Homo sapiens: one gene and its partners. The protein of the gene in region 3 interacts with the protein of the main gene of each other region in a pairwise test. Each region holds a gene or a part of one and is shown on either strand. Other genes may lie near its edges. The genes, in order: DXO, BCAT1, DNAJB6 and GINS3.

Evidence for each region.
Region 1: the proteins of DNAJB6 (region 3) and DXO interact in binary tests that used the Homo sapiens proteins (3 or more experiments, as listed by UniProt).
Region 2: the proteins of DNAJB6 (region 3) and BCAT1 interact in binary tests that used the Homo sapiens proteins (3 or more experiments, as listed by UniProt).
Region 4: the proteins of DNAJB6 (region 3) and GINS3 interact in binary tests that used the Homo sapiens proteins (3 or more experiments, as listed by UniProt).

What each region holds. Positions count from the first base shown.
Region 1 is NC_000006.12:31,969,315-31,976,261, forward strand, and holds DXO (decapping and exoribonuclease protein), read right to left. Parts: upstream 2,683-6,947; 5' UTR 2,615-2,682; exon of another isoform or gene 2,368-2,614; 5' UTR 2,362-2,367; coding exon 2,006-2,361; exon of another isoform or gene 1,992-2,005; intron 1,961-1,991; exon of another isoform or gene 1,861-1,960; intron 1,834-1,860; coding exon 1,598-1,833; intron 1,512-1,597; coding exon 1,292-1,511; intron 1,165-1,291; coding exon 1,029-1,164; intron 954-1,028; exon of another isoform or gene 890-953; coding exon 795-889; intron 711-794; coding exon 563-710; 3' UTR 501-562; downstream 1-500. Other genes in the region: SKIC2 (superkiller complex protein 2), read left to right, coding at 1-106, 201-401; WHR1 (winged helix repair factor 1), read left to right, coding at 2,683-2,902, 2,988-3,197, 3,307-3,443. UniProt on the Homo sapiens protein: Decapping enzyme for NAD-capped RNAs: specifically hydrolyzes the nicotinamide adenine dinucleotide (NAD) cap from a subset of RNAs by removing the entire NAD moiety from the 5'-end of an NAD-capped RNA.
Region 2 is NC_000012.12:24,946,099-24,953,940, forward strand, and holds the start of BCAT1 (branched-chain-amino-acid aminotransferase, cytosolic), read right to left. Parts: upstream 3,004-7,842; 5' UTR 2,835-3,003; coding exon 2,829-2,834; intron 1-2,828.
Region 3 is NC_000007.14:157,332,163-157,340,016, forward strand, and holds the start of DNAJB6 (dnaJ homolog subfamily B member 6), read left to right. Parts: upstream 1-4,841; 5' UTR 4,842-4,982; intron 4,983-5,391; exon of another isoform or gene 5,392-5,649; intron 5,650-7,854. UniProt on the Homo sapiens protein: Has a stimulatory effect on the ATPase activity of HSP70 in a dose-dependent and time-dependent manner and hence acts as a co-chaperone of HSP70. Plays an indispensable role in the organization of KRT8/KRT18 filaments.
Region 4 is NC_000016.10:58,395,471-58,402,490, forward strand, and holds part of GINS3 (DNA replication complex GINS protein PSF3), read left to right. Parts: intron 1-7,020. UniProt on the Homo sapiens protein: Required for correct functioning of the GINS complex, a complex that plays an essential role in the initiation of DNA replication, and progression of DNA replication forks.

The DNA of each region.
Region 1 (6,947 bases), on a different chromosome or scaffold from region 3:
TGGTGAGGTCCAGGTGGCTTGTGGCCTGAACCAGACGGTGGAGGAATTTGTGGGGGAGCTGAATTTTGGGCTGGTTGAGGTTGTATATGAGTGGGCCCGGGGCATGGTGAGTACCTGAGGTTTGGGATTTTGCAGACGGCTGGCTGGGGAGAACCTGCCCAGGCTGAGTGCATCCAGTCCTCACCCTACTTTCCCCACAGCCCTTCTCCGAGTTGGCAGGGCTCTCAGGGACCCCTGAGGGCCTGGTGGTCCGCTGCATTCAGCGCCTGGCTGAGATGTGTCGCTCACTGCGGGGGGCAGCCCGCCTGGTAGGAGAGCCTGTGCTGGGTGCCAAGATGGAGACAGCGGCTACCTTGCTACGGCGGGACATCGTATTTGCGGCCAGCCTCTACACCCAGTGAATGCCCCATGTAAAAACATGATGATAAAACAGCAAAGCACTGTTGTGTGCTTGAGTTGCTGGACAGGGATGACTCAGCTAAGAAGACAGCGAGAGAACCTCTTAGAAATATGCTTTTATTATCTGCACACAGAGATATGACTGCCTCCCTCTAAAGCATTACTATTTGGGAGAGGGAGTCTTGGGGGGTGATGGGAGGTCCTGAGTCATAGCTTCCACATACCATATGGGCAGGAAGGCGTAAGGTGCATCTTGGTGTACAGACACGGTGACTGGGCCGCCAGGCTCCCAAGAGAAGAGATGAACGAGCCTGGGGGGCAGATGGAGGCATCAGTTGAGGGCCAGAGGCTGGATCCTGGGATCCAGAGGGGAGGGACAGAGCTGAATGCCTCACCTGGGGTCATCCTGGACAACCGTGCTCTGGGCAAAGCTAAGGAAGGCGGCACAGAAGTTCATGCACACAGAGGGATTCCAGCCGTCACGGTCATTCTGGAGCAGGCAGAGGAGGAGGCAGAAGATGGGCAGTGGGGGTGGTGGGAGGAGAGAAGGCAGGCTGTTGCCCTGGATGCTAGACCTGTGGTCTTGGTGTTTGGGGATACGGGTGGGAGCTGCAACATCGTTCCCTTACCCTGACATATTCAAACATCTTCATGGTAGGAAAGGTCTTGAGGGAAGAGACAAAACCGTCTGGGTTACGGAAGCCAGCAACAACATTCGGGACCCCTGGGAGGAATGACTGAGCCCACCATTTCAGGAGCTTGTGTCTGACAGGAAAAGCAAGGGATCAGTGGGACCCCTCGTGCACCCTCCATTCTGCCTTCACCCTCCTCCCCAAGTCCCTTTCCCAGCCTTCAAGCCTAAGCTCTCGCCCTGCCCACCCCGATCCTGAACCTGTAGAAACTCCTCCATTGGCCAGGGCTGTGCATCTCCTTGGAGGTCTTGAGCTCCACATAGCAGGTTGGGGGCTGTGTGGATGGGGCTTGGGGGTCTGTGCAGTCTACCTCCCCTGAGAAGAGCAGAGGGTGGCTTCCCAGGCGGCTGCGTAGCACAGAGCAGAAGGCCACGTTGGTGTTAACCTCCCCAGAGGGGTCTGGGGAGCTTCCAGGTTTGTCTGCACAAGGAGAGAAGCAGCAGCAGGCGTGGGGGGCTCTCAACCTCTGGGAAGGGGAAGGGGGCTATGAAGCAGGGGCAACTCACCTGCACACATGTACTGCTCAAATTTGTATCCCATGTACATAAGCTCCCGGAGGAGCGGTGGCCGAGCAAGCCTCTGGGCCCGAGCGTTCGGTGTCTCCACTTCACTCAGGTATAGTGTTCCCTGGAACCGGGAGGCTGCCAGCTGCCAGCCCTCCTGCCGCTCATACGGTGTCGTCAGCAGTTTTGTCAGGTGCCCCCGCCACGTCACTATGGCCTCTGCCAGCCAGCCTGGACCCCTGAGAGGCAGGAGTTACAGGCTGAAGGTCTGACACAAGCATTAGTGAGATGCTCCCCTCGAAGAATAGTCTTGTTTCTTCTAAGGACTGATTCTCACCCCGGCTTTGGCTCTCCTAATTTTAGAGGGTAGGTACGGGTCTCCAGATATACTGCCTACCACGCTTTGCTCACCCCTCCAACCGGCCTCGGTGTTCCAGGAGCCAGCACAGCAGGTGGTCCAGCCTTTCCTGGACCTCCTCGTCCCGGGGCTGGTATCGATCCGGGTATCCGTCTCTGAGGTCAAAGTTGGGGCCTGGACCGTTAGTGGGGGGTGGGCTATAGTAGCGCAGGGCTCGGGCATCTCCATGGTACTGGCGTTGAGCATCCAGGGAGAAGCAGCCCAGTTCCGAAGGGCGCCGGTAGAAAGGAAAGGGCCCAGAGTAGAGGGCAGGGTCTGTGGGCAGAGAAGGTGCTGGACGAGGTAGTTTGTTCCGAGGCTCAGCTACCTCTGTCTTCTCAGCTCCTCTCTTGGTCCCCCTGGGATCCATGAGGTCCTAAGACAAGCAGGGGTACAGAGTTTCCATTCTACAGAGGAGGCCTGGAGAAGGATGACTGGTTTAGGACTAAGCGAGCCACCTGATCGCCAGGCTCTGGCCTTGAAACATTCAGGCCCCTCAGACGCCACCGCGGCCAAGCTCTCATCCTGCCTCTTTCCTTGCCCTTCACCCACCCTCCCTCCAGGTCCTCCAAATGCAGTGAGGTTAGGAAGGACGTCTGCGCTCAGATCAAGAATCCAGTTACCTCAAAGCTCCCCAACTTCCACCTCCGCAGAGCTATGACGTCATGGCAGGCACGCCAGAGGCCGAAGGATGCAAAAGTGGTTTTCTGCTTTCGATGATGCAATCATTCAGCGACAGTGGCGGGCAAACCCCTCCCGGGGCGGGGGAGGTGTGAGCTTCACGAAGGAGGTTGACACCAACGTGGCCACCGGCGCCCCTCCACGCCGCCAACGAGTCCCCGGGCGTGCGTGCCCTTGGAGGGAGCCAATCCGCGGCCGGCGTGGGGCCCGGCCTGGCGGAGGTGATGCTGGTATGTGCGTCGCCACCGCCCCTCCCAGCACTGACGGGCCTGAGGGACGACAAGTTGACGCTCCTTTCGTCATCACCTGGTCTAGGAGGGACGCCCGGGGAGACCGTACGTCACTGCTCTGCGCCGGAAGACCCTATTTTCAGGTTCTCTTCCCTCCATTCCTACCCCTTCCCCGGTACCATAAAATCCCGGGATATGAGCTGGAAGAGGCATCACCTGATCCCGGAGACCTTTGGAGTTAAGAGGCGGCGGAAGCGAGGGCCTGTGGAGTCGGATCCTCTTCGGGGTGAGCCAGGTAACCATGGCAACCCCGGGGGTGGGGCCTCGCTTCCGGTAGCCGAGAGTTTTGTTAGAACCGCGTCCCCGCCCCAGTTCCCTGTCCGTGAGCCGATTTATCTGCCCAGGGTCGGCGCGCGCGGCTGTCTCAGAACTCATGCAGCTGTTCCCGCGAGGCCTGTTTGAGGACGCGCTGCCGCCCATCGTGCTGAGGAGCCAGGTGTACAGCCTTGTGCCTGACAGGACCGTGGCCGACCGGCAGCTGGTGAGGGGCGTCGGTGCGACCGCCGGAAGCCCCTTTCCTAACTCCTGGAATTCCCTGTCACTCAGTCACTCCGCCAGCCGTTCAGCAAGCATTAGGCCTTTCAGGCGAGGGCACTGTGCCAGGCACTGGGGTGCCACAGAGACCCTGTTAAAAGTCCCGCAGGTAGTACAGGGCATTTCAAATCATGGAGGTAGAAGAACGAGGCTTTTGGGGAAACCGAGTCATGGGGCATGGTTCGAACATACAGCGCTGGGAGTGCAGTCAGACGTCAGATCATGACAGGCCTTGTACATCAGTGTTGTTTCCATCTTACACTGAGGCGATGGGCTGGTAGAGAATATCATAGAGAGAGGGAATGGTGTATTGGAGATAGTGGATGAGGCAGGGAGGTCAGCTAAGAAGATACTGCATCTGAGAAGTGGTGAAGGCCTAAATTAGGTCAGTGCAGTAGGGAGGGAGAGGAGAGTGAGGAAGAGGGAGGAGTCCAGGACAACTCAGACTTTCCAGATGACTGCGTGGCTGGTGGTATTAGGAGCACATTTAGTTGTTGGACTACAGATAATGTGTTTAATTTTATACAAGTTGAGTTGATGGTGCATGTGGAGCATCCAAAGACAAAGGTATTAGACAGTTGGATATGAGAGTTGGAGAGAATTCTGGGCCAGTGATAATAGAATTACAAGTCATGGAGGTGTGAATAGCAAGTGGTTAATTCTGTGATGTGGTGAGATCCAGTAGGAAGAGTGGGTAGAGGAGTGATTTCTAACCTTTTTGTAATCTTTAGAAGGTGATAAAAGCTATGGCTATCTCTCTCCAGAAAAATGCACGTTTGCCACATATACATAGGGTGTATGTATAGTTAGGGGGGAAATATTTTACTAATCCTGCGAGGTCCGTGGTTAAGGACTCCAGGTTTAGAGTGGAAGTTAATAGGGTCAAATCCACAATGCTGGGAAACACCATCATTTAAGGCAGTGTTACTGAATATATGAGCTGAGTTATTATGCCTGTGTCAAAATTACGTGGGCTGCTTGTTAAAAAAAATACAGGTTCCTGGGACTCATCCAAGGTTAATGAATTACGCTCTCTTGGGGCGGGATTTGGGACTCTACATTTTTGAACTGCCTCAAGTGCTTTTTAAGTGTGCCTTAAAATTTGAGATCCACTGACATAAAGGGAAAGCAGAAGAAGAGGAATCTGTGACAGAGGCAGAGAGGGACTTGCCTGAGTTAAGAGGAACCCAGAGGCCGGCGCGGTGGCTCACACCTGTAATCCCAGCACTTTGGGAGGCCGAGGTGGGTGGATCTCTTGAGCTCATGAGTTTGATACCAGCATGGGCAACATGACATAACCCCATCTCTACAAAAAATACAAAAATTAGCCAGGCGTGGTGGTACGCGCCTATAGAGCTACTGGGGAGGCTGAGGTGGGAGGATTGCTTGAGCTGGGGAGGCGGAGGTTGCAGTGAGCTGAGATAGCACCGCTGCACCCCACCCTGGGTGATAGAGCTAGACTTTGTCTCAAAAAAAAAAAAAAAAAAAGTAACCCAGGAAGAGGCCTACTGTGAAAGTAAAGAGATTTTTGAGAAAGTGAAGTAGTTGGCAGTATTAGAACCTGTGATTCAAGACAGTGGTCTAAGAAGAGGGAAGAGGTAAAGTAAAATATAAACTGAAATCTAGGCTGAGTGTGGTGGCTCATGCCTGTACTCCCACCACTTTGGGAGACTGAGGCAGGAGTATAGCTTGAAACCAAAAGTTTGAGACCAGCCTGGGCAACAAAGTGAGACCCCATCTTTACTAAATAACTGAGATCCCATCTCTACTAAATAAATAAATTAAAACACAAAAATTCTTAGCTGGGCATGGTGGTGTGCACCTATTGTTCTAGCTGTTTGGGAAGTTGAGGCAGAAGGAGTGCTTGAGCCCAGGAATTTGAGGCTGCAGTGAGCTATGATTGCACGACTGCACTCCAGGCTGGGTAACAGAGGGAGACCCTGTCTCTAAAAAAATGAAAACAACAACAAAAAAACCCAGAACTGAAATCTGTCCATTGGATTTAGCAGGTAGAAGGTTAATAGTGATCTTTCAAGAAAAGAGGAAAGAAAAGGAAGGCAGTCTAGCACTCACTTGAGGTGAGCTAGTCTCCCTGACTAGGTCTCCCGTGAGGAAGCATGCCAGATGGAACCACTCCTTAAGGAGTATTTGTTGATTTTAATGTATTGGTGTTAGCTTTTGTTTTTAAAAACCTTTAAAAGTTGCAGAATGAAAATATAAACATATATAATTTAAATGATGTTTATAAAGCAGATACCTATCTAGCCACTCCCTAGGTCAAACTATAGAATATGACCAGTATCCCACATATATCCCTCTCTGATCAAAATGTCTCTGATCAGAATGTCCCTGGGAGGTGACTGCTGTGGTCATTGTTGCCTTAGTTTTCCCTTTTTTTTTTTTTTTTTTGAGGTGGAGTGTCGCTCTGTTGCCCAGGCTGGAGTGCAGTGGTGTGATCTCAACTCACTGCAACCTCTGCCTCCTGGGTTCAAGCAATTCTCCTGCCTCACTGTCCTGATTAGCTGAGACTACAGGCACGCGCCACCATGCCCAGCTAATTTTGGTATTTTTAGTAGAGATGGGGGTTTCATCATGTTGGCCATAATGGTCTTGATCTCCTGACCTCGTGATCTGCCCTCCTCGGCCTCCCAAAGTGCTGGGATTACAGGCATGATCCACCGCACCCGGCCTAATTTTGTATTTTTATAGGGATGGGGTTTCACCCTGTTGGCCAGGCTGGTCTCAAACTCCTGACTCAGATGATCTGCCTGCCTCGGCCTCCCAAAGTGCTGTTTTTTTTTTTTTTAATTGTCTTTTTGATAATTCCACTATTTTTTTTTTTTTTTGAAAAGTCTCCCATGTCTACCTCTTTCCACACAGACACGGCAACCATCCGATTTCTCAATCTTTTCCCCACCTTTTCCCGCTTTCTAGTCCACAAAACCACCATTGTCATCGTGGCCCGTTCTCAATGAGCTGTTGGGCACACCTCCCAGATGGGGTGGTGGCCGGGCAGAGGGGCTCCTCACTTCCCAGCAGGGGCGGCCGGGCAGAGGCGCCCCTCACCTCCCGGACAGGGCGGCTGGCCGGGCGGGGGGCTGACCCCCCCACCTCCCTCCCGGACGGGGCGGCTGGCCGGGCAGAGGGGCTCCTCACTTCCCAGTAGGGGCGGCCGGGCAGAGGCGCCCCTCACCTCCCGGACGAGGCGGCTGGCCGGGCGGGGGGGGCTGACCCCACCACCTCCCTCCCAGACGGGGCGGCTGGCCGGGTGGGGGGCTGACCCCCCACCTCCCTCCCGGACGGGGCGGCTGGCTGCGTGGGGGGCTGACCCCCCCACCTCCCTCCCGGACAGGGCGGCTGGCCGGGCAGAGGGGCTCCTCACTTCCCAGTAGGGGTGGCTGGGCAGGGGCGCCCCTCACCTCCCGGACGGGGTGGCTGGCCGGGCAGGGGG
Region 2 (7,842 bases), on a different chromosome or scaffold from region 3:
CCTGAAACCCCAAAAGATGTAACTAATACAAAGGCTCAACATAGCTGCCATTTAGAAACAATCTTTCATTTATGCACAGGAATAATTTACTCATAAGCCCAGCCCTCTCAGTTAGGTTAATAACACCACTATCAGTTTTCCAGCTGTTTACTTCCCTAGCTTTATTTCTAGACATGAGAAATAAGGAACAAAATATATAATTAGGAAAACAATTGGAATGTCAGCCTACGGACAAAACTGAGACAAAATTTATATAAGTAGAGAGTATATTGAGGTCAAATTTGAGGACTGCAACCAACGAAACACCAAATCAAGTTGCCCTGAATATATACAGCAGTTACAAGTGGGTTTTTAAAAGAAAAAAGAGGCAGTTTCTAAGTTGAGAAGAATTTATATTAAAATAACATAAACTATATAAACTATTGATAGGCTAAACATTGTTTTTTTGTATCACAAATTCCAGGAACATAATGAGTGAGGCAGTTAGTCAGGAACAAAATGTCTTTAAATAATTACTCCTGCGCATGCGTACGGGGGGACGTGACTGAAGTCTCACACTCCTATCTCTCTGGGCCTGATAAATTGTGTAGCCTTCACAAAGCTCAGATCGCTCTGCGCTATTTTTCTTTTTTCAGGGAGTTGCACAGCTACTGACAGAAAGCACATCTTGGTTTTAGTCCATAGTACAAAACTCAATTGTGATCGAATGTTTTCAACTTCCTTTCATAATAAGGTTTTAAACTCATTTCAAATAATTAGATCTGGTTCTAATGAGCTGAAAAGCAAGAGAAATTCTTGCGTAAAAAAGGAAAAATATTTTTCCCCTTTTCTCTCTGTAGTTCTGAAATCCAGTGAAATTACTCATTACTGAAACTTATCAGATGAAAATATTGGCCAGCATTAAATTCTTTTCCTCCCCAACCCCCACCTCTTTTTTTCCTTTTTCTAACCACCACCCTTTTGTTAGGCCAGCTTAACTAGCTTTACATCTCTGAGCCTAGCCTGAGGGGCCACATCCTGTGTCTGGAATGTAAAACCTCTCTCCCCACTAGGCCTCCCGTCTTCCCTCCACACACACACACACACACACACACACACACACACACACACACACGGACTTCCCTTGCCTCCAATCCCATTTACATGTGTATCATTTTTAAATCCCCATCTAAATTTATTAAGTCATAATACTCACTTACCATTTTTGTACACATGCTACTCAGTGTATATCCTATGTTTCTTATCCAAGTTGCCCATTCTGCATGTGTCTGTCTTAAAATACAAGCTCATGCATGACTTAAGCCCGGAGAATTTGCTGAGGACAAAGGCAATCAAGATGCCATGTGCAAATAACATTTTTTTAAAAAATCAAGCTTGTGATAGCAATACATATTTAAGAGATAAGTGGAAAGATGTTTGAAATATTGTGATAAAACTAACTTAATGGAACCTTCCATACTTCTTCGATCATACCTAGAATACAATCATTTCTTTCTTAATCTTAGGAAATATCAGGAAACAGAAAAGAGACTACTTGTAGATATCTTACCTAGTTCCCCATGTTATAAAAGTATCTTGTGGAAGGGACAGGGGTTTTTGGACCTACAAAAACGCGTAATTAACCACAACTGCACATGGACAGGAAAAAGCTGGAAAAGCAAGACTGTTCATTCTTAGTTTTCTCCTTTTACTTACTAAAGCTATAATCAACTAAAGTGTGTTTTTCATCTGAAATGAAACAAGCATGAGGAAGCCAGAAATAGAACCTCTAACTATAGAAGAAAAGTTGTGTGATCTCTGTTGAATACAAAAACGCATAGTTTCCACTCGGTTACTGTTTAATTGTAGTGAAAGTTTTTGTTTGGCAACAAAGGCGCTATTTACATATTATTTCTTCTAAGTGAAACTATGGTCTGGGATGGGTTGTAGATAAGAGCAGTTGAGAACCACGCTTCATCTCCCTCCTTAGAAACTCTGAAACGAGGCTTTATTCCTACCAGAAGTTCAGATTGCATTATGGTCATCTCAATTCCAAAATGTTAGATGGCAAGAATATCTGCCCATCCTTCACTTTCCTTGGAAAAAGTTGCTCTTCGGGTTTTATATGCGATTGCAGTTTTCCAGTGTGTGAAACTAGGAAAACAAAACACTCAACGGTGTACATCCCTACACCTAAATAGTCAGAAATAATAGGCAGCTAGGCTAATTATCCTTGATTAGCAAGATCAGAGCCATTAGGGTGCTCACTGGTTTAACAAATGAATGCCCTTAGGCGTCTATCATTTGTAACTCCTAGAAGCTTTAATTTCCACAAGAAACAAAATAAGAGGGGCCTTCTGCTTTTAACAGTGAAAAGATCGTTCTCCCTCCCCTCTCCACCCGGGTCAACTCTTCCAGCCGCTCCCTCCTGCATCACGAACACACGCTGCAGGAAAGCGCATTTACAGCCCGGGACATCCCCAGACCTCCTCTCCAAAATTCCCCACCTCCTGTGCATAGGAGAAACTGAGAGAAGCCCTCACTTCCTTTCCAAACTTCACAAGCAGGGGAGGGAGCTGTAGCAGACTTTCACCTCCGTTCCCAAAAGCGAATGTGAAAAAGTCCGAGAAGGCACGTCCTGCGAGTGGAGGTTAAACCGAAATCTGAACAGAATGCACGGTCCCCGCAAACTACGATTGATAAAGAAGATACTGAGACGTTTGCGGGGGATATAAGCCATGGTTGTCTCGCCTTCCTCCCCTCCCTGCCAACTATGTTTCTTGGAGAAATCGCCGGTTCGATTCACGCACACATTTTTGTAAAACACGGACAAAACCATAAGTAGTTACCTTCATTGTTCCGTCGGCCACGAGGGAAGCTCGAGCTGAGCGGAGGGCAGATCCCAAGGGTCGTAGCCCCTGGCCGTGTGGACCGGGTCTGCGGCTGCAGAGCGCGGTCCCGGCTGCAGCAAGACCTGGGGCAGTGCCCGAGGCGGCGGCGAGTACACGTGGCGGGCTGGATTGCAGACCGGCCCTCTCGCGGCGGAGACTCGCGACCTAGCGGATTGCATCAGCAGGAAGACACTAAGGCTGCTCCCCCAGGCCGCCCCCAGATGGTGGAGTCTCTCCCAGCCCGAAGATTCGGAGCCAGCGCCCAGACCCGAGCCTCACTCACTGCTCACTCCCGGGGTGCAGGGCAGAGGTGCCAGTGTTGCAAGCAAATGACACGGTTACCCCCGAATCAGCCACTGTGGGTGCGTATCCGAGTGTGGGGATGCCCGTGTAACATTTATATGGAGACGTCAAGGAGGAGGAAATAAACAGATCAGAGGTCAAATGTGATTGCCATTCCGTCATCACTGGCTCCTGCCCACCTCCCTACTGTCCCCAAAGTAACTTTGCTGCATGCTGAGAGGACCACGGCACAATCCTGCCCAAAAGTATACATGTATCCCCCGCGGCTACTTTAAATGTACTTTTGCAGTAGTCAAGAACATGTGCCTGGTTTGCCGATCTCTTTCCCAGAGTTCCTTAGTCACCCTCAAATATAACCATTTTTGCCAATTTATTATGTACATGGGGGAAAATTTTTAATCCTTTAATTTGAGCATATAAAATTCTTTATAATGTGAAATTGCCCAGTAGCCTAGTTGGTCCCCTGTAAGTTCCCTCCCCACATCTATACAAAGCTCCAGGATTGCTACTTTTCCATGTCCAGCGCCTAGGTCAGCCTCCATGACTGCTTAAGTGTGCTGCTGGTTGACCTCCGCTGCCTCTCTGTCAAGCTGGCAAACTCCTATTTTTGTAAATTTCAACCCAAGTCTTTGCTGTGGAAGTTGCTTCCAATGCCCTCAAACAGAACTGGGCCCTTGGTCTATGTGCTGCACTTTGTCCACATCCTTTCTCAAAATCAATTATTTTATTTTATCATTTTTTAATGGAGATGGGGTCTCACTAAATTGGCCAAGCTGGTCTTGAACTCCTGGCCTCAGCAATCCCCTCGCCTCCGCCTCCCAAATTGCTGGGATTACAGATGTGAGACTGTGCCCAGCTTCTTAATTTTACTTTAATTATTTGTTTGCACAGTTGTCACTTCAGTGGATTATGAGATTCGTAAGGGCAGATCCTTTGTCATATTTATCTCCCATACCAAGTGGCCTGCCGTGGAAGAGAGGGAGTGTTGAAAACAAATGTGTCAGTGCTTAATGACTGTTGGTCAGGTGAATGAATGGTTAAATTATGTGTTCAATAAATGTACTGAGTGATTTCTACATGCTAGGCTGGTATATAACAGTGGTTTGTAATCTGAAATGTCTCAAAATGGAGCCATTTATGACAAGGGTTTCAGCCTCCAGTGAAATTGCTGACCCCTCAAATTGATAAGCATATGTATGGTGGACTGAGGTGATAAGATAACACCTGCTGTGGCCTGGCACCATTGGCAAGAGAGTAAAGAGAGAGGCAGCTGAGATAATGGCTATGGGCACTTGCGGATGCTGTGAAAACCAAAAAGTAATGAAAACCTGAAAGTAACTGACCACAGCCAAAATGCTTGCAGAAGTTCTGCCCTGAGAAATCTGTATCTGTAAGCATTTAATCAGCCATTGAGTCCTTGTGAAACCTCCTGGCCCCCGTCAGTGAAAGCACAGCTAGATAGATTTGAACCTGACACTGACATGAGACAGGCAATGTGCAAAATGCTAGGGACTGAGTGGGAAACAACAAAAATGTTCTTACCCTCATTAAGCTCATATACTAGTGTGAGAAACAGAAAGTAAGCTTTAAATCAGGTAGCAAAATGTTTATCAACTGAGGAATGGCTAAATAAAACATGGTATCATCCATACAATGGAATATTATTATATTCTGCAATAAAAAGAAATGAAGTACTGATTACATGCAGTCACATGGATGAACCTTGAAAACTATGCAAAGTGAAAGAAGCGTCTCACAAATGACTACATATTATATGATTCCACTTATCTGAAATGTGCAGAACAGGAAAATCCATAGAGACAGAAAACACATAGTTGTTTTCAATCTGGGGACAGGGTGGAATGCAGAGTGAATGTTCATGGGCGTTGGATTTCTTTTTGAATTGATTAAAATGTTCTCAAATTAGATTGTGGTAATGGTTACACAACCCTGTGAACACACTAAAAACCACTGAATTATACCCTTTAAATAGGTGAATTGTATGTTATGTGAATTATATCTCAATAAAGATGTTACTCTATGGCCCGGCATGGTGGCTCACACCTGTAATCTCAGCACTTTGGGAGGCTGAGGCAGACAGATCACTTGAGGTCGGGAGTTCGAGACCAGCCTGGCCAACATGGTGAAACCCCGTCTCTACTAAAAATTAGCCGGGCGTGGTTGCGGGGTGCCTGTAATCCCAGCTACTCACAAGGCTGAGTCACAAGAATCGCTTGAACCTGGGAGGCAGAGAGGTTGCTGTGAGCCAAGATCATGCCACTGCATTCCAGCCTGGGCAATAGAGCAAGACTCAGTCTCAAAAAAAAAAAAAAAAAAAAAAAAACAGGTACCATGTGGTAAATTTTATGAGAAAGAGTAATAAGGGGATAGAGAGTGATGGGGTCATAGATATAAATGCATTAATAAGTTCTAGAGCAAGCCTGGCAATTACTCCTAGATCCAACGACCGCCCCTCGCCCCCCTCTCCCTCAATGCAGGATTTTTCTCAGTCCCTTTGCCAGTCAAGGACCTCTAGCCGGCAATGCCGGAGGCCTAGCTCGGGGCATACTACCTGCTGCAGGAGGCACCCCACGCAATTTGCCCGCCTGAGACAAGTTTGCCTTGCACATTGGTTCCTGAGTTCTTGCCCCATGCCCAAGAAAAATGAAGATGTGCTGACAATTGAAGAGTGAGCAAGGCGGGGAGTTTTACTGAGGGATGAAACAGCTTTCAGCAGAGAGGGAAGCGGGGGTGGTCCCCCTACCCGAAGGCAGGAAAGTCTCCTCCATGAGGCTGAGTCCTGGGGCTTTTTATCGGCTCAGAATAGGGGAGGGGCAGGCAAACAGGAACAGAAATTCTCACTCTGCGTCATGGATTTCATCCAGGACCAGCAGTCTGGTCTTTCAGCCTTCAGGCTGTTTTTGGCTTGAAGGTACAGTTTCACCTCCAACCCTGTTGCTGTTACCCCTACTTAAGGATTCTTTTGATGTTAGCAACAAAGGAAGAGAGAAGGTAGTATATATTTAAAAAAAAAAAAAAAAAAAGAGCTTGAAGGGAAGTGAGAAAGTTAGGGAATTAACATCCACAGAAGAATATGAGGGCCGGGCGTTCACGCCTATAATCCCAGCACTTTGGGACGTCAAAGCAGGAGTTCAAGACCAGCCTGGGCAACATAGCAAAAGCCAGTCTTTACAAAAAATGCAAAAATTAGCTGTTTGTGGTGGTATGTGCCTGCAGTCTAAGCTACTCCCAAGGCTGAGGTGGAAGGATCACTGGAGCCCAGGAGATCCAGGCTGCAGTGAGCTGTGATCACTTCATACTTCACTGCACTCCAGCCTGGGTGACAGAGTGAGACATCATCTCCAAAAAAAAAAAAAAAAAAAGAAAAAAAAAGAATATAAGAACAATCTAGCTATGTCTCTCCTCCCATTTCCCTTTAGTGTTGATAGAAGGGCCCCACAGTTCTCCCTCATTGTCAACTGTAAACTCCCAAAGCTTCTCTCCCAGACAACACACATGCTTTTCCCAAATGATGAGGCTCATGATCAACGAAGGTTGTTACTCTGACAGTGGCACTGTACTTCAAACAAGTCACAGTAAAAGATATTTAAGGAAAACTGGATCCAAACTGGATATATACCATATACCCATCTATGGGCAGTGTCTTTTACTGAAGAAGAGACAGCATTTCTAAGATTTCTAATAGACACTAATTTTGAGGTTGACTCCAGAGCGCCAGACAGTCCAGCTTCATTTTGTCCTCACTGTTATTAACAAAGGCTTTTATTGCCATCATTATGAAAAATATGTGCCAACTACCTGCAGAATGTCTTCCCTGTATCTTACTAAATTTTCTCTAGGAAAGCAGAAACTCACAAATATTCTCTGCCTTGAGTTATTAACAGTTCCTGGAATTTGAATAGGAGAGTTTACATAAGGCAATGATACTCTGTCTTAAAAGAGGAAAATCTACTCTAAAATTCTACTCTACACACTCAGAAAACAATGTCATTCTCTTTCTCTATTTCTCATAGTAAAAAATACTTCAAAATTGTACTGTTTTTATATTTCCTATAATACTTGCATTCATTGCCCATTACATACATGTGCACACACACATGCATACACACACAGACACACACCAAGTTCAATACTCGAAAATCATTTATACTGTACTTTTTGGGAAATTTCCCATGACAATTTTGACTCACTGGATTTATTTTTATCCTTGTTGTACACACTCTAGTACCTAATCCCCATGTAAAATTAGATTTACTGGGTTGGGCGCGGTGGCTTATGCCTGTAATCCCAGCACTTTGGGAGGCCGAGGTGGGCGGATCACGAGGTCAGGAGATCGAGACCATCCTGGCTAACACGGTGAAACCCAGTCTGTACTAAAAATACAAAAAATTAGCCAGGCTTGGTGGCAGGCACCTGTAGTCCCAGCTACCGGGAGGCTGAGGCAGGAGAATGGCTTGAACCCGGGAGGTGGAGCTTGCAGTGAGCCGAGATCGCACCACTGCACTCCAGCCTGGGCGACAGAGCAAGACTCCATCTCAAAAAAATAAAAATAAAAATAAATTAATTCCTATCTATTTTGAAAGGATATTGTAAAGTCTTCTTTCTGCTAGTTCTCTAGAACCTCTCAGGGTACTTTCCACCCTGACGC
Region 3 (7,854 bases):
GGAAACCGAGGCTTGTTGATGTGGGTAAAGTCAGTGCGTCATCAGCCCTAAAGTTTTATTGGGCATCAGGGGATGTGGGCACCACAGGGAACCATGCCTCGCACCCCTGTGGCCACTCAGCCTCCAGTCTGGCCCCAGTCAGCACTGGGTCCTCTTCCCTCTGCCCTGCAGCCTCTGTGCTTGCTGGCCCATGAAGCTTCTCGGTCCACTTTTGGCCTTGAACATTTCAGCTGCCCTCAACCCCCGGGGCTCCCTGCAAGCCATTACCCCAAATCCATCCACATTCTCCACGCTCCTCCTTTCTTTCTTTTATTTTTTGAGACGGAGTTTCACTCCTGTTGCCCAGGCTGGAGTGCAATGGCACGATATCATCTCACCGTGACCTCCACCTCCTAGGTTCAAGTGATCCTCCTGCCTCGGCCTCCCGAGTAGCTGGGATTACAGGTATGCGCCACCACGCCCGGCTACTTTTTGTATTTTTAGTAGAGACCAGGTTTCACCATGTTGACCAGGCTGGTCTTGAACTCCTGACCTCAGGGGATCTGCCCACCTCGGCCTCCCAAAGTGCTGGGATTATAGGCGTGAGCCACCGCACTCGGTCTCCAAAGACTTTTCACTCCTACTTAAATCTTTTCTGGGATAAATCCTTGTCATTGAAAGACCTCGTTGTTTCAAAAGAGTTAATTAAATATTACCATTTAATCTCCAAGGTGTTTATACCTGTCCTCCCTAACTGCTATGTGAAGTCCATCAGGATGGGGACCTTGTTTTGTACTGGTTGCTTTTCTTCATGATAAAATTTATTGTATTGACATGCTTCTTAAAAATTATGTATGTATTTGTTTAGAGACAGAGTCTTGCTCTGGCACCCAGGCTGCAGTGCCATGACATGATCACTGTTCACTGCAGCCTCGACCTCCTAGTCTCAAGTGCTCAAGTGGTCCTCTTACTCAGCCTCTTGAGTAGCTGGGACTATAGGTGTGTGCCACCATGCCCAGAAAATTTTCTTTTTTCTTTTTTTTTCCTGAGACAGAGTCTTGCTTTGTCACCCAGGCTAGAGTGCAGAAGCACGATCTCTGCTCACTGCAACCTCTGCCTCCCGGGTTCAAGCAATTCTCCTGCCTCAGCCTCCTGTGTAGCTGGGAATATAGGCATGTGCCACGACACCGGGCTAATTTTTTGTACTTTTAGTAGACATGGGGTTTCGCCATGTTGGCCAGGCTGGTCTCGAACTCCTGACCTTGTAATCTGCCCACCTCAGCCTCCCAAAGAGCTGGGATTATAGGCGTGAGCCACTGTGCCTGGTCATAATTTTCTATGTATTTATTTTTGAGACAGGGTCTGTGTTGCCTAGACTGGAGTACAGTGGTGCTCTACTGAAGCCTGGACCTCCCTGGGCTGAGGTGATTCTCCCACCTCAGCCGCCTGAGTGGTTGGGACTATAGGTGTGTGCCACCGCACTTGGCTAATTTTGCTATATTTTGTACAGATGGGGTTTCACCAAGTTGCCCAGGCTGCTGTCGAACTCTTGAGCTCAAGCAATCTTCTCGCCTCGGCCTCCCAAAGTGCCAGAAAAAAATAATTTATTTTTGGTAGAAATGGGGTCTTGCGGTGTTACCTAGGCTGGTCTGGAATTCCTAGGTTCAAGCAATCCTCCTGCCTCAGCTTCCCAAAGTGCTGGGATTACAGGTGTGCACCACTGTGACCAGCCTGATACGCGTTTTAATGTGTGTGTGTGTGTGTATATATATATACACACACACACATACACACACATATATTTTCTTTTTCGAAGGGGGAAAAGCTATTTGTGGCTAGCCTACCACTTACAATGTAAAATTCATGTCTGTGCTGCTTACATTTCAAGATGAGCTCACAATCACTGTAGGGACGTATTGACATGTAAAATGTCCCATGATAGTACTGTCTGTCCACACTGAGATGGAACTAAACCTCCATCAATCTGCAAGCAGATAGGTTACATGTGACAGTGCCAAGCTGTGCACATATCTGAAATTCCAGTCTTTGCTGAGATTATTTTAGGTTTTATTATGAGATGCCCATACTAACACAAACTATTATTTCTTCCTTTTGAACAGTCATTTATATAACCAGTAAAAAAAGAGAATAGAGGCTGGGCTTGGTGGCTCATGCCTGTAATCCCAGCACTTTGGGAGGCTGAGGTGGGTGGATCACCTAAGGTCAGGAGTTTGAGACCAGCCTGGCCAACATTGTGAAACCGCATCTCAACTAAAAATACAAAAAATTAGGCATGCATGGTTGCTCATGCCTGTAATTCCAGCTACTCAGGAAGCTGAGACAAGAGAATCACTTAAACCTGGGAGGTGGAGGTTGCAGTGACCCTAGATTGTGCCACTGCACTCCAGCCTGGAGGACAGACAGAGAGACTCAGTCTCAAATAAGAATAGAGAATCCAGTCAGATTTTCCTTTGCTAACTGATCATTTGCTAGAAATGACATGCAGTAATACAATTAAAGTTTAAGAAACACAAAAAATGAGCCCAGCACAGCGGCTCATGCTGGTAATCCCAGCACTTTGGGAGGCTGAGGCAGGAGGACTGCTTGAGCCCAGGAGGTTAAGGCTGCAGTGAGCCATGATTGAACCACTGCACTCCAGCCTGGGTGACAGAGCAAGACCCTGTCTCAAAAAAAAAAAAAAAAAAAAAAAAAAAAGGGCAGTATTTCATTTTGAAGTATAACAATTACAGCCATTAACCAAGTGTTCCAGTTGTCTAAAATGAGGCAGGTGTAGACGGAAAATTTTCCCTGTACTCTCTGAAGGTTTCACAACTGAGTCTCTGAACTAAGCTGACAATAGACAGATTCGTAAGAGAAAAAGTATACAAATCTATAACATGTACTAGGGCATCCCAGAATCCAGTGAGATCTGGAAGCTTATACAGCCCCTTCATAGAAGAGAGGGGAGGCAGATGCAGGCAGCTCAGGGGAGAGAAAATGATTTTTTGCCTTCAGAATAGGTGGTGGCCTGTGGCAAAATCTGTCTGGGTGTGCAGCTGACGTCCCTTGAAGCTCTTCTCCCGTGATCCTGGCTCATTCTTCCCTGGATGAGACTTCCAGGGAGGGGGTCAAGACAATTGAGTCCCTTTGGGATGATCTGTCTTTATGTAAATAATGGGGGATTCACAGAATGCCCCTCCCTGCATTGGCAGGTCCCCATGTGCCCTCAGTTTGAGGGCATACTAATGTGGTAATCAGTGAACTAGTTAGTAATCAGTATCCTAATATGGCATAATTCAGGGTGGCATTTCTCCAACTCTTTCATTACTAACGAGCTATTTTAAACCAAAAGTGATTCAAGTGTTAAAGTGCCTTTTACTTGAATATCTCCCAGGCTTAAACGATCACGAATTCATAAGCGTTGTTAGTTCAGAAGGTGGCTGAGCAGGCCCCCGGAATTCAGTGTCAGCATGCCACAGGATCTGAAGTTCAGGAAAGGTGTAACAAAAAGGGATTTTTCTTTTTTCTTGAGACAGAGTTTCGCTCTTGTTGCCCAGGCTGGAGTGCAATGGTGTGATCTCCGCTCACTGCAACCTCCTCCTCCTGGGTTCAAGCGATTATTCTGCCTCAGCCTCTGCAGTAGATGGGATTACAGGCATGCACCACCACACCTGGCTAATTTTTTTTGCATTTTTAGTAGAGACGGGGTTTCTCCATGTGTCAGGCTGGTCTCGAACTCCCAACCTCAGGTGATCCGCCCGCCTTGGCCTCCCAAAGTGTTGGGATTACAGGCGTGAGCCACCGCACCCAGTTGAGATTTTTATTTCTTAAAGGAAAGGATAAGGTGGGCCAGGACTAAGACAACACAGTAGCAAACATCTGGCTGAATGCTGGAGAGGAAGACAGTGGGAGATCCAGGCCAGGCTCCATGGACGAACTGCTTGTTGGCTCCTTAGGCTTTGGGTCTGCGGGACCCTTTCGCTACTGGGAATGGGAGCCTGTCTGACTGCACTGGGTCTGAGACTCCCTGCTCCTGCTGGTCACCATCTACACGCATGTGGTGTTGGTCTCCAGGGTTAGAACCAGAACCCCTGAGGACGCGGGAAAGGCTAGGAAGCCTGGGGATGACCTAAAGTCCAGCTATCAAAATGCGCCGCGTTTTCAGAAAAACTACTGCCACGATTTAACCTAAAAAGCTTCATCTGTATTTTCTGCCACAGTTTGCTTCCGTTTCCTTCAGTCACTATTCCCTGGCGAAGTCTCCACGCGCTCCCGTTCGCCGGGGAACTTAGGGTATCCGGGCTTCCCTAAATTGACAAGCGGGGGCCGGCGCCTTCGCCCGCCTTCGCTGGCCGCCGCTTGGTTTGTTCTTCTTCTCCTTCGGGGACTTCTCCGCCCGCGCCCGCGCCCGCGCCCCAGCTTTCGTCCCGCTGTGCGGAGATGCCACCCAGCTCCACCGCAGGACCGCGGAGCGAGAGGCGGCAGACGCGCTCCGGGGGCCGCCGGTCAAGAGGAAGATGAAGGGCGCGACGACTTCGCGGTTTCCAGAATGGGCTCCTTCTGGCCCAACAATAAGTGCCATTTGGAATCTTCTCGGCCTTCTCTGTGCCTTCCGCGCGTCTGGGCTCCCCGGTACCGTAGACCCGGCCCCGAGCTCCGCCCCCTCGCCCTGGGCTTCCCCGCCCCCTCGCCCCCAGTCTCCTGGGCTCTTCGGGGCGGCGGAAGAGCCGAGAACCTTCGCGAAGGTGGGGCGGGCGCCCCCGAGGTTGGGCCCGCGGTATGGGCAGTGGAAACTGCGCATGCGCGGCGTCAGGGTCGGGCGGAAGTTGACGCCGCCGTGCCGCCGCCGCGTGACGCATTTCCTGTTTGTTGTTGGAGAAAGGAGAGAAAGGAAAGCGCGAGGAGCCGCCGCCACCACCAGCGCAGCAGTCCTGGAGCTGTGAGGAGATTCGGGCCGTCACCCTGCCTCCCCTGCGTCCCGCCACCGGCCGCTTCTGTCCTCGGTGAGGGTCTGTTCCGAGGGTCGGGGGAGGTCGCCTAGGGCCCCGCGCGCGCCCGGCAGACGGCGGACCTCACCCGGCGCCTGGCAACAGCGCGGGGGGTGACCGGGGTCGCCGGCCGGGGAAAGGACTGGACGGGGCGGGGGCCGTGGCCGGGGTTGCGGGGCGAAGGGTGGGCGGGGTCCTCTGGGTCAGGTCTGGGGCCGGGGCCGGGGCTGGGGTCTGGGGCCGCCCGGCCGCGTCCTCCCCGCCCGGCGTCCTTGCCGGAACGCGGCCCAGCCTCCGCGGCGGCGGTTGGGGGTGGGGCCCGGCCTGGGAGCGGCCGGCTGGGGCTCGGCTGGGGCTCGGCGGGGCCGGCAGCGTGGGAGGCGTGGAGCGCCTTCTTTTTCTAAGGCTCCCGCACTCGCGTCTGAAACCAGAAACGGGAGTGGCTTGCGGAGCAGGAATGCCGCAGCCGTGCCGCCAAGTTCGGAGGGAGAAGAAGCAGGTGGGGGACCGCAAAGCCCTGTTTCTAGAACTCCGGACGGATTGTTCAGAAGTTTGTGGAAGAGCAGGCTGCCTTTCTCACTCAGAATGTTTGTCTGCTTTGCTTTGCGTTAAAGAATCTGCACCGTAGTTGATGCAACTGAAGTTTATATAAGAAGTTTACATTAACTCTTACCTAAGGAAGGTCAGTGACACACGCAGTGTAAACTGCAAATCATATATTGGCTCGAGAAAGGTTTTGGCACTAGCGAATTTTTTAAAGGATGGGTTTGCTAGTCAGACGTAAACTTCTGTGCTAACTTCTCACGTAAACGGGGCAGGAAACAGCGCAAGTAGAACGATCGTGCCACCACCGAAGGGGTGCCGCCTGCGAGCTCGGAGGCTTCAGCCTGTTTGGGAAGAGTAGGCTGAGCGGCGCTCTTTGTAGTTTTCAACGTTTTTATTGAGTTGCGAATTTTAGTAAGGATTTGTCGCTACAATTTAAGCCAAATTATTGATTTAGTAGAAAAGTTAGAGTGAAGACCGAAGAAAGGAAACAGACGTTAACCATTAAAGCTTGATTGCTGCTGCTTCGTGTTTAACCGCACTTTTCCAAATAGTGTTGCGTATCAGAACGATTCATGATTTCTGAAAGGAATTATATGCAGCCGCCTTACTCCTCCGCCAGTCCACCCGTCCCGCGTTCTCTCTGGGTTTACTCCAGACTTCCTTTTTTTTTTTTTCCTGAGACGGAGTCTGTTCTGTTGCCCAGGCCAGAGTGCAGTGGCGCGATCTCCACTCACTGCAACTTCCAGCTCCCAGGTTCAAGCGAGTCTCCTGCCTCAGCCTCCTGAGTAGCTGGGGTTACGGGTGCTCGCCACCATGTCCGACTAATTTTTGTATTTTTAGTAGAGACGGGGGTTTCACCGTGTTGGTCAGGCTGGTCTCGAACTTATGACCTAAAGTGATCGCCTGCCTCGGCCTCCCAAAGTGTTGGGATTAGAGGCGCGAGCCACCGCGCCTCGCCGACTCCAGACTTGTTTCCACTCCTGAGGGCCTTAAGCTCCCTTGGAGTTTGTGCTTTCACATTTCTTTCTGCCTTCCGTGATAAAGGGATGAATAGTTTTTATGCACGCTTCAGCGAGCTGCGGGTTTTTGTGGATTACGCAGGCTGTGAAATTTGGGAAGTAAGTTGCCTTAAGTTGGTAGATGTGGAGATTTGACAGGAAGTGGGAGAACAAAGGGGTTGGGAAGCTTTTGGAAAGTGTCCAGGCTTCATCTGTGCTGTGGAAGGTGAGAAAGTTGGGAATTCCAGAGGGCAGAGCTCTTAAAGAATTTGAGATGAGTTCAGCACTCTCTTCAAAACAGTGTTTTAAAATTTATTTTCTTCTGGATATGAAAGTGTTAGGTTTGGGAAGTAATTCTGGCTGTAGGACAGTTTTTCCGGAACACTAGGTGGGGAGTGTTGAATGTTGTGAAGACTAAAATATGCATATGGTATTACAGTGTGATACCTGTTACTGAGTGGCGTACATTAGCTTTCATTTTTAAGCAAGCCCGTAATTCCCTTCTATTAACTCTGTTTTGGACAGTGGTACCCGTCACCCTCATCAGTCTTCAACCTAGATAACCTAAATCCAGGTCTGAGGTGGGGGTGGAATGGTCTGTTTGCACCTTTTTTTTTTTTTTTTTTTTTTTTTTTTTTGAGACGGAGTCTTGCTCTGTCGCCCAGGCCGTAATTAATGCGGTGGCGCGATCTCGGCTCACTGCAAGCTCCACCTCCCGGGGTCACACCATTCTCCTGCCTCAGCCTCCCGAGTAGCTGGGACTTCAAGCTTCCGCCACCACAGCCGGCTAATTTTTTTGTATTTTTTTAGTAGAGACGGGGTTTCACCGTGTTAGCCAGGATGGTCTTGATCTCCTGACCTCGTGATCCGCCTCCTCGGCCTCCCAAAGTGCTGGGATTACAGGCATGAGCCACCGCGCCCGGCCTTTTGTGTGTGTGTGTGTGTGTGTGTGTGTGTGTGTGTGTGTGTGTGTGAGATGGAGTTTAGCTCTTGCCCCTGCTGGAGTATAATGGCACCATCTTGGCTCACTGCAACTTCGCCTCCCAGGTTCAAGCGATTCTCCTGCCTCAGCCTCCCGAGTAGCTGGGATTACAGGCATGCGCCACCACGCCCAGCTAATTTTTTCTATTTTTATTAGAGACGAGGTTTCACTATGTTGTTCAGGCTGGTCTCGAACTCCTGACCTCAGGTGATCCACCCGCCTCGGCTTCGCAAAGTGCTGGATTACAGGTGTGAGCCCGCGCGTCCGGCTGTCACTTTAAAGAGTATTATAAGAGGGCACTTCATAACTTGGGCAGGTATTTTTAGTCATCCTGAACGTGTCGCTGTGGACTGGGTGTCAC
Region 4 (7,020 bases), on a different chromosome or scaffold from region 3:
CCTGCGGCCTTCCGCAGTGTTTGTGTCCCTGGGTACTTGAGATTAGGGAGTGGTGATGACTCTTAACGAGCATGCTGCCTTCAAGCATCTGTTTAACAAAGCACATCTTGCACCACCCTTAATCCATTCAACCCCTGAGTGGACACAGCATATGTTTCAGAGAGCACAGGGTTGGGGGTAAGGTCACAGATCAACAGGATCCCAAGGCAGAAGAATTTTTCTTAGTACAGAACAAAATGAAAAGTCTCCCACGTCTACTTGTTTCTACACAGACACAGCAACCATCCGATTTCTCAATCTTTTCCCCACCTTTCCCCCCTTTCTATTCCACAAAGCCGCCATTGTCATCCTGGCCCGTTCTCAATGAGCTGTTGAGTACACCTCCCAGACGGGGTGGTGGCCGGGCAGAGGGGCTCCTCACTTCCCAGTAGGGGCGGCCGGGCAGAGGTGCCCCTCACCTCCCGGACGGGGCGGCTGGCTGGGCGGGGGGCTGGCCCCCCCACCTCCCTCCCGGACAGGGCGGCTGGCTGGGCAGAGGGGCTCCTCACTTTCCAGTAGGGGCGGCCGGGCAGAGGCGCCCCTCACCTCCCGGACGGGGCGGCTGGCCGGGCGGGGGGCTGACTCCCCCACCTCCCTCCCGGACGGGGCGGCTGGCTGGGTGGGGGGCTGACCCCCCCACCTCCCTCTTGGACGGGGCGGCTGGCCGGGCAGAGGGGCTCCTCACTTACCAGTAGGGGCGGCCGGGCAGAGGCGCCCCTCACCTCCCAGACGGGGCGGCTGGCCGGGTGGGGGGCTGACTCCCCCACCTCCCTCCCGGACGGGGCGGCTGGCCGGGCAGAGGGGCTCCTCACTTACCAGTAGGGGCGGCCGGGCAGAGGCGCCCCTCACCTCCCGGATGGGGCGGCTGGCCGGGCAGGGGGCTGACCCCCCCACCTCCCTCCCGGACGGGGCGGCTGGCTGGGCAGAGGGGCTCCTCACTTCCCAGTAGGGGCGGCCGGGCAGAGGCGCCCCTCACCTCCCGGACGGGGAGGCTGGCCGGGCGGGGGCTGACCCCCCCACCTCCCTCCCGGACGGGGCGGCTGGTCGGGCGGGGGCTGATCCCCCCCACCTCCCTCCCGGACGGGGCGGCTGGCCGGGCGGGGGGCTGATCCCCCCACCTCCCTTCCCGGACGGGGCGGCTGGCCGGGCGGTGGGCTGACCCCCCGACCTCCCTCCCGGACGGGGCGGCTGGCCGGGCGGGGGGCTGACCTCCCCACCTCCCTCCCGGACGGGGCGGCTGGCCGGGCGGGGGGCTGACCCCCCCACCTCCTTCCCGGACAGGGCGGCTGGCCGGGCAGAGGGGCTCCTCACTTCCCAGTAGGGGCGGCCGGGCAGAGGCGCCCCTCACCTCCCGGACGGGGCGGCTGGCCGGGCGGGGGGCTGACCCCCCCACCTCCTTCCCGGACGGGGCGGCTGGCCGGGCAGAGGTGCTCCTCACATCCCAGTAGGGGTGGCCGGGCAGAGGCGCCCCTCACCTCCAGGAGAGGGCGGCTGGCTGGGCGGGGGGCTGACCCCCCCACCTCCCTTCCGGACAGGGCGGCTGGCCGGGCGGGGGGCTGACCCCCACCTCCCTCCTGGATGGGGTGGCTGCCGGGCGGAGACGCTCCTCACTTCCCAGACGGTGTAGCTGCCGGGCGGAGGGGCTCCTCACTTCTCAGACGGGGTGGTTGCCAGGCAGAGGGTCTCCTCACTTCTCAGACGGGGCGGCCGGGCAGAGATGCTCCTCACATCCCAGACGGGGCAGCAGGGCAGAGGCACTCCCCACATCTCAGACGATGGGCGGCCGGGCAGAGACGCTCCTCACTTCCTAGATGGGATGGCGGCCGGGCAGAGACGCTCCTCACTTTCCAGACTGGGCAGCCAGGCAGAGAGGCTCCTCACTTCCCAGACGGGGTGGCAGCCGGGCAGAGGCTGCAATCTCGGCACTTTGGGGGGCCAAGGCAGGCAGCTGGGAGGTGGAGGTTGTATCGAGCCGAGATCACGCCACTGCACTCCAGCCTGGGCACCATTGAGCACTGAGTGAACGTGACTCCGTCTGCCATCCCGGCACCTCGGGAGGCTGAGGCTGGCGGATCACTCGCGGTTAGGAGCTGGAGACCAGCCCGGCCAACACAGCGAAACCCCGTCTCCACCAAAAAAATACGAAAACCAGTCAGGCGTGGCGGCGCGCGCCTGCAATCACAGGCACTCGGCAGGCTGAGGCAGGAGAATCAGGCAGGGAGGTTGCAGTGAGCCGAGATGGCAGCAGTACAGTCCAGCTTCGGCTCGGCATCAGAGGGAGACCGTGGAAAGAGAGGGAGAGGGAGACCGTGGGGAGAGGGAGAGGGAAAGGGAGAGGGAGAGCTTGTCTAAATTTTCAATGGTATCAGTACAATGTTCAGAATTTCCTTTACTATCTTTTTAATGTCAGTAGGATTACAGTGGTGTCCTTATTTTTATTTTTAATATCAATAAATTGTGTTCTCCCTTTCTTGATTACCCTTGCCAGGAGTCTATCAATTTTTTTATTCTTTTAAAAGAACTAACTTAGGACTCTGTTGGTTTTCTCTTTTGTACCTTTGTTTTTTAGGTCATTAATTTTTTAATTAGTTCTTTCCTTCTACTTTATTTGGGCTTAATTCTCCCACCACACACACACACACAGATACACATTTTGAGATGGAAACCTAGGTCATTAATTTTTCAATCTTCTTTTATACATTCATAGCTATTCATTTCTTTTAAGTGAAATTATTCTATTCAATTCACAACTTTAATTGCGTTTCATAAGTTTTGATGTGTTATATTTTCATTATCAATGAACTAAAAATACTTTTTAGGCCAGGCATGGTGGCTCACACCTATAGACCCAACACTGGGAGGTGGAGGCAGGAGGATCACTTGAGCCCAGGAGTTCGAGACCAGCCTAGGCAACATAGTGAGTCCCCATCTCTACAAAAAATTTTTTAAAAAAGCCGAGCATGGTAGCACACACCTGTGGTCACAGCTACTCAGGAGGCTGAGGCAAGAGGATCACTTAAGCCTTGGAGGGTCAGTACTGCAGTGAGCCGTGATCACACCACTGCACTCCAGCCTAGATGACACAGCAAGATACTGTCTCAAAAGAAAATAAATAAAAATTTTAAAATACTGTTTAATTTTGCGTTTTAAAATACTGTTTAAAATACTGTTTAATTGTGATTTCTTTTTTGACCTGTAGGTATTTAGAAGACTAGTGCTTAATTTCAAACATTTTGAGATTTGGTCATTTACCATTTTTTATTTCTAGCTTAATTCCACCGTGGCCAGAAAACATAGTCTACATGATTTCAGTCTTGAAAGTTGCTGAGACTTGCTCTATGGCAAAGCATAAGACCAATTTAACCATTCTGTGTGGACTTGAAAAGATGTCTATGGGAAGTCATAGTGTGCAATAAATAATCCGTATGTGTAAATTAGCTCATTTGTTAATTGTTTTGTTGAGATATTCTCTATCCTTGCAATTTTTTTTTCTACTTTTTTTTTTATCCTGTAAAACATGTGGACCAGGCATGGTGGCTCCTGCCTGTAACCCTAGCACTTTGGGAGGTGGAGGTGAGAGGATCACTTGAGGCCAGGAGTTTGAGATCAGCCTAAGCAACATAGCAAGACCCTGTCTCTAGGAAAAATTGAAAAATTAGCTGAGTGTGGTGGCACATGCCTATAGTCCCACCTACTCAGGAGACTGAGGCAAGAGGATTACTTGAGCCTAGAAGACCACTGCACTCCAGCCTGGGTGACAGAACAGGACCCCCTCTCTGAAAAAAAAAAAAAAATTGAAAAAATGTTAAAGTCTCTCATTATGATTATGGATTAGCCTGTTTATCCTTTTACTTCTGTTAATTTAGACATATATTAATAATTTTCTGGTAGATATAATGACCCTTTTATTATTGTCACGTCTCCCTTTATCTCTAATGCTCCTGTCTTTTGATTCATGTTTACATGACTTTTTTTAATCCTATTTTTAATTTTTCTGTGTCTTCATATTTAAGGTATGTCTCTTTTATGCAGCATATAGTTGGGTTTTGTTTTGTGTGCAGTGTGCTGATTTTTAATTGTTATATTTAATCCATTTACATTTAATTATTGACATATTTGTATTCATTTTTACCTTCTTACTATTTTCTTATGTCCCATCTGTTTTAGCTTTCTTTTTCTATCCTTTCTTGACTTCCTTTTGCATTAATCAAATTTATTTTATTATTCATTTACCTTTTTATTAGTTTATTTAGTTATATATTCTTCTGTTATTTTAGTGGCTACCTTAAATATATTACACAATCATTTCTGACCAAAAAGAATGTTATATAAGTTACTACTTTCACCACTTCACAGAAATGACTAGAATCTTAGAACACTTAAACCCATTTTTTCTCTTGTGTTATTGTGATGTATTCTAGTTTGACTCATTGAAAACCCCTGTAAAACATTATTATTATATACCCACTTATATATTCTTTTCATGACTTGTTTTTCCTTTCTGCATTTCTGTAGTTCTTTCTGGAATCATTTGCATTCTCTCTTCAGAATTCCCTTATTCTGGATCTTCTGGTGATAAGTCTCAGTTTCTGTCTGTGTCACAGATGCCCAAGACCAACCCAGATTTGATGATTCACTAAGAGGACTCAAAGGACTCAGCATATAGTCACACTCATGGTTAAGATTGATTACATCAAAAGGATATAAAGCAAAATTAGCAGAGGGAAAGGTTGCATGGAGTAAAGTCTGGAGGAGACCAGGCACAAGCTTCCAAGAGTCCTCTCCTAGTGGAGTCACACAGGATGCACTTAAATTCTCCAGTAATTTGAATTCTGATAAAATGTTTGAAATACTGTCTCCTAGGGAAGCTTGTTAAAGACTCAGTCCCCAGGGTTTTATTGGAGGCTGTTCATGTGGCACTTTCTGTCTAGCACAGACCAAAATTCAGACTTCCAGAGGGAAAGCAGGTGTTCAACATGAATCACATTGTTTGCACAGACAGTTCAGGCACACTCTCATCAGTTCTAGGACGGGTGAGAATCCTCCTGAAATCCAAGTTCCCAAATGCCAACCAAGGGCCAACCTTGCAGCAGGCCTTGCTAAGATAGCAGCCTCAGGCCTACTGTGTATCTTTCCTGCATACTTTCTCTATGGAAATGCCTTTATTTCACTTTTACTTTTAAAGGATATTTTCACTGGGTATAAGATTTTACACTCACAGTTATGTTCTTTTAGCACATAAAAAAAAAATTCCATTTCCATTGTTTTGTGGCTTCCACAGTTTCTGTTAAGAAGTTGGCTTTTTTTTTTTTTTTTCTTTTTTGAGACAGAGTCTTGCTCTGTCGCCCAGGCTGGAGTACAATGGTGTGATCTCGGCTCACTGTAACCTCTGCCTCCTGTGTTCAAGCGAGTCTTCTGCCTCAGCCTCCTGAGTAGCTAGGATTACAGGCGCCCACCACTATGCCTGGCTAATTTTTGTATTTTTAGTAGAAACGGGGTTTCACCATGTTGGTCAGGCCCGTCTCGAACCCCTGAGCCCATGTGATTTGCCCGCCTTGGCCTCCCAAATTATTGGTGTGTCTGGAATTGGTTCCTTCAGGTGGGTTCTTGGTCTCGCTGGTCTCGCTGACTTCAAGAATGAAGCCGAAGACCCTTGTGGTGAGTGTTACAGTTCCTAAAGGTGGTGTGTCCGGAGTTTGTTCCTTTAGATGTTCAGATGTGTCCGGAGTTTCTTTCTTCTGGTGGGTTTGTGGTCTCGCTGGCTTCAGGAGTGAAGCTGCAGACCTTTGCAGTGAGTGTTACAGCTCATGAAGGTAGTGGGGATCCAAAGAGTGAGCAGCCATCAAGACTTACTGTGAAGAGCTAAAGAACAAAGCTTCCACAGCGTGGAAGGGGACCCAAGCAGGTTGCTGCTGGTGGCTTGGTGGCCTGCTTTTATTCCCTTATTTGGCCCCACCCACATCTTGCTGATTGGTCCATTTTACAGAGAGCTGATGGTTCATTTTACAGAGTGCTGATTGGTCCGTTTTACAGAGTGCTGATTGGTCTGTTTTTACAGAGTGCTGATTGGTGTGTTTACAAACCTTTAGCTAGATACAGAGCACTGATTGGTGCATTTACAATCCTTTAGCTAGACAGAAAAGTTCTCCAAGTCCCCACCCAACCCAGAAGCCCAGCCGGCTTCACCTTTTATTGGGATTACAGGCGTGAGCCACCGGCCCCTGCCAAAAAGTTGGGTTTAACTCTTAATGTTCATTCTTTAAAGGCAGTGTGTTCGTCACTCCCATCTACAGCTGTTTTTAGGATTTTCTCTGTCTTTGGTCTCGTAATTCAGGTAATATATGCCTAGTTGTGATTTTATTAGTATTTATTCTATTAATACTTGTTATTCATAATGTTCCTTGAATCTGTGGTTTGATACCTTTTTTAATTTTGGATAATATATAGCTATTATCTCTTCAGACATTTATTTTGCCTCAATCTATCGCTCCTGCCCATCAAATTACATGCATGTTGAACTTTGTCTTTCTTTTACACCTTATTTCATACATCTCTTAGGCTCTTCTCTGTTTTTTCTCTAGATACTTTAGTCTGGTTATTTTCTATTGACCTTTTCTCATTCACAGTCCTGTCTTCATCCAAATCCAATCCAGTAAACATGTTAAATTTGATTTAATCTATTGACTTCTTAGGTTCAATTATTGTATTTTTCAGTTCTGGAATTTCCATTTGATTTCTAAGTTTATCTTAAAGTTGGCGCCTAATTTCTCTGCTATTCGGTGTCAAATAGGGGGCTTACTTCCCTCCCTTCTTTCTCAGATCTTAGGCCCTCATGTCCTGGTGGTGTTGGCAGCCTTGAACTCAATATTGGTCTGTCTAGTCCTGTGCAGTTTGCCAAAAGCTCTGCTTCCACACCCACAAAGCTGCTCCCATCTTTTTGCAACAGTTCTCCCTTGTGAGAGTTTTGGCTCTTACTGCTTC